Homo sapiens: one gene and its partner. The protein of the gene in region 2 interacts with the protein of the main gene of each other region in a biochemical or structural test. Each region holds a gene or a part of one and is shown on either strand. Other genes may lie near its edges.

What was found. The genes of interacting proteins can lie anywhere in the genome.
Region 1: the proteins of GCH1 (region 2) and AHSA1 form a complex in vitro, tested with the Homo sapiens proteins (one study listed by BioGRID).

The regions. Positions count from the first base shown.
Region 1 is NC_000014.9:77,455,804-77,459,553, reverse strand, and holds the start of AHSA1 (activator of 90 kDa heat shock protein ATPase homolog 1), read right to left. Parts: upstream 1,462-3,750; 5' UTR 1,365-1,461; coding exon 1,285-1,364; intron 1-1,284. UniProt on the Homo sapiens protein: Acts as a co-chaperone of HSP90AA1. Activates the ATPase activity of HSP90AA1 leading to increase in its chaperone activity.
Region 2 is NC_000014.9:54,847,167-54,850,916, forward strand, and holds part of GCH1 (GTP cyclohydrolase 1), read right to left. Parts: intron 1-3,750. UniProt on the Homo sapiens protein: Positively regulates nitric oxide synthesis in umbilical vein endothelial cells (HUVECs). May be involved in dopamine synthesis. May modify pain sensitivity and persistence.

The DNA of each region.
Region 1 (3,750 bases), about 23 Mb from region 2:
GAGAATACGAGGTTAAAGGAGGCCTGACAAATAGTTTGAAAAGAACACAAAAACTCCCAGTCGCACTCCAGTATGTCCACAAACATGTCATTCTTTTTTAGGAAGACAAGGGGTTGCACACTGTCAACAAAGACAGCTGCTGTAGAAAATGGTATAAACTCAATGGAAAATTATGCTCTCCTTTCTCGGCATGATGGTGCGGGGGAATACTTGATACTTTAACATGGCGCCCCCATTTGACCAAGTGGAAAACTGCACATATTGCTGAGATCAGGAACACAGACTGGACCATGAAAGAATAGTACTTAGCTAAAAGGCCCAGAAAGGATTAAACCAATAACCCTGACCTCATTGGCACGGTGTTCTGACCTATCAGATTCGCACTTGCATTATAAACTTCCTACACATTCACTGTCCCCTAGATGGCCACAAAAACGTTAAGTCCAGGGCTTCAAAACAAACAACAAAAATTAGGTCAAGTACTCTGCATGTTAAGAAGAGAGAATACAAAGTGAGATATGGAAAAGAAACATCACTATCTGCCTTCCTACTTATCAACTATTAGAGAAAACAACAGCAAAAAAGGCTGCAACAAAGTAACGGTACAATACAAACATTACGAAAAAAGTTCAGTGGAATTCAAAAATAAGGAAACTAATATTACTTTGGGAAGATTTCATGAAGGAGGGCAGTTATTTTAAGAACGGTCAGGTTATAAAACCACGGCTGCTCGGCAACCTGGAGTTCCAACACACCCGACCTGATAGTTCCGGGTGAGAGGCCGCAGCTATCTGAGCTCTGAGCACCTGCACAACACGTTCTCAATCTCCCGCGGGACCGCTGCAGCGGTCCCCTATGAATGACTTTTAATTTTACCGCAGGCCGCAAAATAGGAATTACAGACCCCTGGCCTTAGGCCTTTCACAGCTATCTCCCAACACAATCAAAGGAGGTTCCAGTCTCAGTGACTCCTCTGGCCACGTGTAATAAGCACCTCCCTGCTCGGGCTGGATGCAGCAGCCAGGGCGTTATCTCCTAGTCTCTCTGACAACCCTCCTCTGGGGCGCAGCCCTCCACGTCCATCTCCCTCCCCTCAAACACTGAGAAGGTGACCGCGGAGTGGAGAGGCCTGGGGCTACGGACCCCTGCCACAGGAAGGACCCACCCCCATCTCCGGACAGGGCTACCTCAGCCCCAGCTCTGTCCGGGCCGAGGTTCTAGGAACCCTGAAACCCTGGCCCGGCCGCAGGTCTCCCAAGGCCGGCCTGCTTTTCTGGCCCTCACCAGTGCCAGTTGTTGACGTTGGTGGCGTCCGCCCGCTCCTCCACGATCCAGCGTGGGTCTCCCTCACCCCACTTGGCCATCGGCTCTCCTATCGCGGCGCCACCAGCTCCGGAGCAGCCGTAGCCACAGCCTCAGGACCGCTTAGTGCCAGCCGCCCGGCAGCGCCTGGAAACTACTAGAAGCGGCCGCAAGCACCTCCTGGCTTGCTTTTCCCTCCACCCCCTCCCCTCCTTAACTTCCGGCTCCTCCCCACTCCCACCGGTTACTTCCGTCCCAACTCGCCGCACCGTGGGTTCCGCCTGATTTAGAGATCCTTCAGACTCCATCGGGTTCTCCCCAAAAAGCGTCCCGAAACCCAACTGCTCATACAACCATTCCTCACCCATAGGAAAACAAAGAACACGTCTCATTGCTTCCCTGGACCCTAAATCGCCCTTGCTGAGCCTCATGGGAATTGTAGTCTTGCTACGTGACTCGCTGGATAACCGCGGAAGGTCTCGCGGAAAGGAGAGGAAATGACCTAGCACGGTGCTTGGGGTTTCTGGGGGCTGTAGTCAAGAAGCCTTGTGGTTCGTCGGGACAGCGCCTGACAGCAGAGGCAGAAGAAACTACGACTTCCAGCATGCCCTGCGGTCTCGTTATTCGTGTTTTCTCTCCGCCCTACGATTATTCCCTTCCGCCCCCTTCTCTAAGCTGCACAGCCTGAATAGAAGGGCTGGTCCAGCGGCGGCGGAGGCTGGCGCTGTCCTGAGAGGGAGGGCTCTGTGCGGAAGAGGTGAGGGTGTCCCAAGCCCCTTGGGTCGCGTATCTGGCTGGATCCAGCCTCTCCGCATCTTGATCTTTTCCCCTCTTCTAGGAGGCATCCCTACACCCTATGACTACAGGCCTGATTCTCTTCTTTCAGTCAGGGCGACCCTTGGGCGCTGGAGTACGCTTGGGACTGGGGCTGCGAGTGAGCACCAGCGATTGGTTCGGAAGCGGACATTTGGTTCAGAACGAGCATTTAACTCTGCCAGGGATCCGCTGGGCTCTGACGACTGCGGTAGATCCATGGCTTCCTGGACGTTCACCCGTAGAGTCATCCTAGCTTAACTCTTGTTCCCTGGTCTCAGTTCACAAGCCTCACCTGTATCTTCCTGGCTCGGAAGATAATTGAAACCAAGTCTGACTTCTCAGTAGGTGGTTTTTGGAGTTTTCTGAGGCAGGGAGCATGTTGTGGTTTTCTTGCTGATTCTTCTGTTTTCCTTTGTAAAGTTCCTGTTCTCCCCTGAGGTCTCTCACCCTGCCTTGTGGGCTGTCAGTAAACAAGAGACGATAAAGACAAACCTCTGAAGTATTTTAAATCATGTTGAAGCACCTGTCACTCTTAAGAGTGACAATCGTACCTGATTACTTTATAACTCTAGAGCCACTAGATCATTATCTATACTTGCCAAGTAAACCTAGCTTCTCATTTGGCGTTATAAATACAAATTGATGGCAGTTGTCTACTGCCATTGCATGGTTAAAAAGATTCCAGAAATCCTCTGGTAGATTATTGTGTTTGTTAGACACATTCTATGTCTATCTGTAGATAATTACTATAGTGAAGGAATGATCTCTAGTTTTCTGGAAAGTGAAAAATAGGTAGAAGGACCATGCAAGACACTAGAAATGGTCTAGGAGCCAGAAAGCCTGGATTGTAATTTGAAATAGGAGCATTTAACAAAGTGGCTTTGATACTGAACTCTTTTGTGCCTCACTTTCCCCATGAGTAACATGGAAATGGAATCTCCCAGGCCTACCTTACAAGATTGTTCTGAGGATCAAACGAATGACAGAGTGATTTATGAACTGACATGTGTGCCAGAGACATTTATATGTTCTATACACATCTTCAGCATTTGTGGCTACTCAGAATTTTTGTATTTTTTTTAATCTTTAGGATTGCTAAAAAATATTTTCTTTTTTAGCTTTTCCCAAGGTACCAGGATGATGTATTAATAATAAAAGTTACTATTGAGTGTTAATTTTGGGTCAGGCACTAAGCACTTTACATGTATTAACTGGTTTACTCCTCAGAACCATTTCTAAGGTAGGTCATCTGTTATGCCCATTTAACAGACGGGAAAACCAAGACAGAAAAATGTCAGTATGATATTCCATATTAAAAGGAAATAACATTTAGTATTTACTTTCTGCTAGACACTTTTATAGATGTTCCCTGCAACCCTGTGAGATAGGATATAATTTTCTCCAAGGCTTAGAAGTAAAGTCATTTATCCACTTTGCTCAGAATTAAGAGAAACCAGGATTTGAACTCAAGGTTGCCTGACTACAATGTCTGTGTGGGATGATTTCATGGTGTCTGCCAGCATTTTTGGTTTATCTCCCTAAAATTAAATACAGAAAAGGATTTTTAAACAACCCTGTACCAGTAGAAATCAATTAGTGATGTCTGCCGTGAGAAGGGACCAGATAGTAGAA
Region 2 (3,750 bases):
CATTTGAAGTAAAATTGATAAGCCTTCCTCATAAAACAAAAAGGACATTGTTGAAGCAAGTGGGCTGCAAGAGGAAATAAAGCTTATGGCAAGATGACAGAAAGATACAAGTACCACAGGGAGATGTAGTCTAAAGTCAACTTGATTGGATTGAAGGATGCAAAGTATTGTTCCTGGGTATGCCTGTGAGGGTGTTGCCAAAGGAGATTAACATTTGAGTCAGTGGGCTGGGAAAGGCAGACCCACACTTAATCTGGGTGGGCACAATCTCATCAGCTGCCAGCGAATACAAAGCAGGCAGAAATATATGAAAAGGCAAGAGTGGCCTTGACTCCCAGCCTACATCTTTCTCCAATGCTGGCTGCTTCCTGCCCTCAAACATCGAACTCCAAGTTCTTCAGTTTTGAGACTCAGACTGGCTCTCCTTGCTCCTCAAGCTTGCAGACAGCCTATTGTGGGACCCTGCGATCATGTAAGTCAATACTTAATAAACTCCCCTTTATATATATATATATATCTCCTATTAGTTCTGTCCCTCTAGGGAACCCTTACTAATACAGAAGACCACCAACCACTGCAGAGTGGTGCTTCCTGATGTCCCCAGAAAGAGAATTAATGAGTCTCCAACTGTGACGTTCACTTAGGAAAAACAGAGATGAGTAACAAAATTTTAAAGTTCCAAATCATCAATTTTAGATCATGTCTCAAGTGCTCTGATTAATCATATTGTTTTATCAGAGCTTAAAATTCAAGTTAAAAATAAAAAGACTTTGTTAATTAATAGCACACCACGGTCAACTACTATACCAACTAAACCTATTAGGAGAATCAGATTGGAACTGATTAGACTTCTTCAGACACCTCTTCATAAGATAGGTTTATGTAAGCACTTAGTAAGATTAACCCCCAAGAAATAAAAGCCTCCTGATCTTAACTTATAGCACAATCTGTCAAGTGATAAATTTTCCTCTTTTTTTTTTTTTTTTTGAGATGGAGTCTTGTTCTTGCCATCCAGGCTGGAGTGCAATGGCATGATCTCAGCTCACTGCAACCTCTGCCTCCTGGGTTCAAGCGATTCTCCTGCCTCAGCTTCCTGAGTAGCTGGGACTATAGGCACCCGTCACCATGCTCGGCTAATTTTTGTATTTTTAGTAGAGACAGGGTTTCACCATGTTGGCCAGGCTGGTCTCGAACTTCTGACCTCGTGATCTGCCCACCACAGTCTCCCAAAATGCTAGGATTACAGGCGTGAGCCCCTGTGCCCAGCCAGAATTTTCCCCTTTCAACATCTTTCATTCTATTTATGAAATATAAAGATGACCACGTGACTTATCCATTTGAAGATGACTATTCACACTGAGGACCTTTTCTTTAAATTCATGGCCTTTTGATCATGAATTCAGATTCAATTTATGGTTCACCTCCCTATGAGGCATTTCCTGGCTCTTCCCCCAACTACACGTCTCAGAACCAACAACTTGCTCCTTTATACCCATTACAGCCAACAAAGTCAGTAACAGGTCCGCCACCCCGTTTACCACTCAGCCCAGAGCTCCCTGAGGGCAGAAGCCATCCTAGCTCTCCTTTATCCCAGCAGTAGTTACTAGGATATTGAAGAAATATATTAATAGCTATATTCTATTGGTATTTTGAACAAAACCTTAGAAAGGAATGGTTTTTAAGCTCCTAGATAGGAGGTATGTCATATTTCTTACTAGGTCAAATTTCTGTATATATTACTTCTGATAGTTTTTCAGGTGATTAGTTTGTTATATATGTAGGAGATGCCATTGATTTTAAAGTTAGTAATGTTTTCCTTCTCGTATTCACCATTCTTTTTCTGGAGTAGAACTTCAGGTGCCACATTGGACAATAGTGGTAACACTGGGCAACCATGTTTTGCTCCACACTTCAATAGGAATGCCTCTAGGATTTCACTACCACCCACAGTGCCTGCCTGCTTCTGGCAGACAGCTGCTCTCATGGCAGGAGGAACATTCCCATAGATTTTTACTGAGTGCCTGCTATGTATGTGATTATATGGTGAACATGCTCTCTGTGCTCTGAGAGCTTATTATTTCTAAACCCTAGTTTATTAGTTTTCTTTTACAAGTGAGGAGTAAATATGAAACCTAACACATCTTTTCAGCATGTCATGTAGCTTCCCTAGATTAAAAAAAAAAATCTTTATTTTGCTGTCATTCTGGAAAGATAATTTGTTGAGAGGTATTTGCTGGGAACCGAATTCTAGTTTGACACTGATATCTATCTTGCCCTTCAGTATTGCTGTTGGCAAACCAATTCAGTGTAACTGCTGTTGCCTTTTAGATAATCGATATTTCTTTCTTTGGCTGCTTTTATATTAACTATATTTTATAAGTATATACTGCAATTTACTATGTTTTAATCCAAGTAGGGATTTAATTTGACTTATTTGGAATTTATTAGGCTTTCTGAAGACCGATATTTTGCATGTGTTCTAGAAACTTTTTTAGCCATTATCTTCTCTAACGTTGCATCTAGCACATTGCCTCTGTTATCTCCAGGAATTTCAATTAAGGGCATATTATACCCTCCCAGTCTTCCATGTTTCTTAAATTCTCATTCATATTTTCTACCTGTCTTTGCGCTGCATTCAGCACAATTTCTTTAGACCTTTCTTCCCAATCACCGTATTTAATCTATGTCTAATCTATTTAATGAGTATACTGGACTTCAGTTTCATTTTTTTAATTTCTAAAAGTTATATTTCCTCCTCTTCCCAATCTGCCTGGCTAATTCTGCAAGTTTCTTATCCCTTTGTCAATTTTTTTTTGTTTGTTTTTTGGCACGGAGTCTTGCTCTGTTGCCCAGGCTGGAGTGCAGCAGCACAATCTTAGCTCATTGGAACCTCCACCTCCCGCATTCAAGCAATTCTCTACCTCAGGTTCCCAAGTAGCTGCGATTACAGGTGCCTGCCACCACACCCAGCTAATTTTTGTATTTTTAGTAGAGACAGGGTTTCACCATGTTGGCCAGGCCGGTCTTGAACTCCTGACCTCATGATCCGCCTGCCTTGGCCTCCCAAAGTGCTGGGATTAAAGGTGTGAGCCACCACGCCCGATCTCCTTTGTCAATTTTTTTATATATAAGTAGGTTCTTTTTTTTTTTTTTTTTTTCCCCCGAGACAGAGTCTCCCTCTTGTCACCCAGGCTGGAGTGCAATGGCACAATCTCAGCTCACTGCAACCTCTGCCTCCCAGGTTCAAGCATTTCTCCTGCCTCAGCCTCCCAAGTAGCTGGGATTAGCGGCACCCGCCACCACATCCAGCTAATTTGTTTTTTTTTTTAATTATTATTATACTTTAAGTTCTAGGGTACATGTGCACAACGTGCAGGTTTGTTACATATGTATGTAAGTGCCACGTTGGTGTGCTGCACTCGTTAACTCATCATTTACATTAGGTATATCTCCTAATGCTATCCCTCCCTGCTCCCCACGACAGGCCCCGGTGTGTGTTTCCTACCCTGTGTCCAAGTGTTCTCATTGTTCAATTGTCACCTATGAGTGAGAACATGCAGGGTTTGGTTTTCTGTCCTTGCGATAGTTTGCTCAGAATGATGGTTTCCAGCTTCATCCATGTCCCTACAAAGGACATGAACTCATCTTTTGTTATGGCTGCATAGTATTCCATGGTGTATAAGTGCCACATTTTCTTAATCCAGTCTATCACTGATGGACATTTGGGTTGGTTCCAAGTCTTTGCTATTG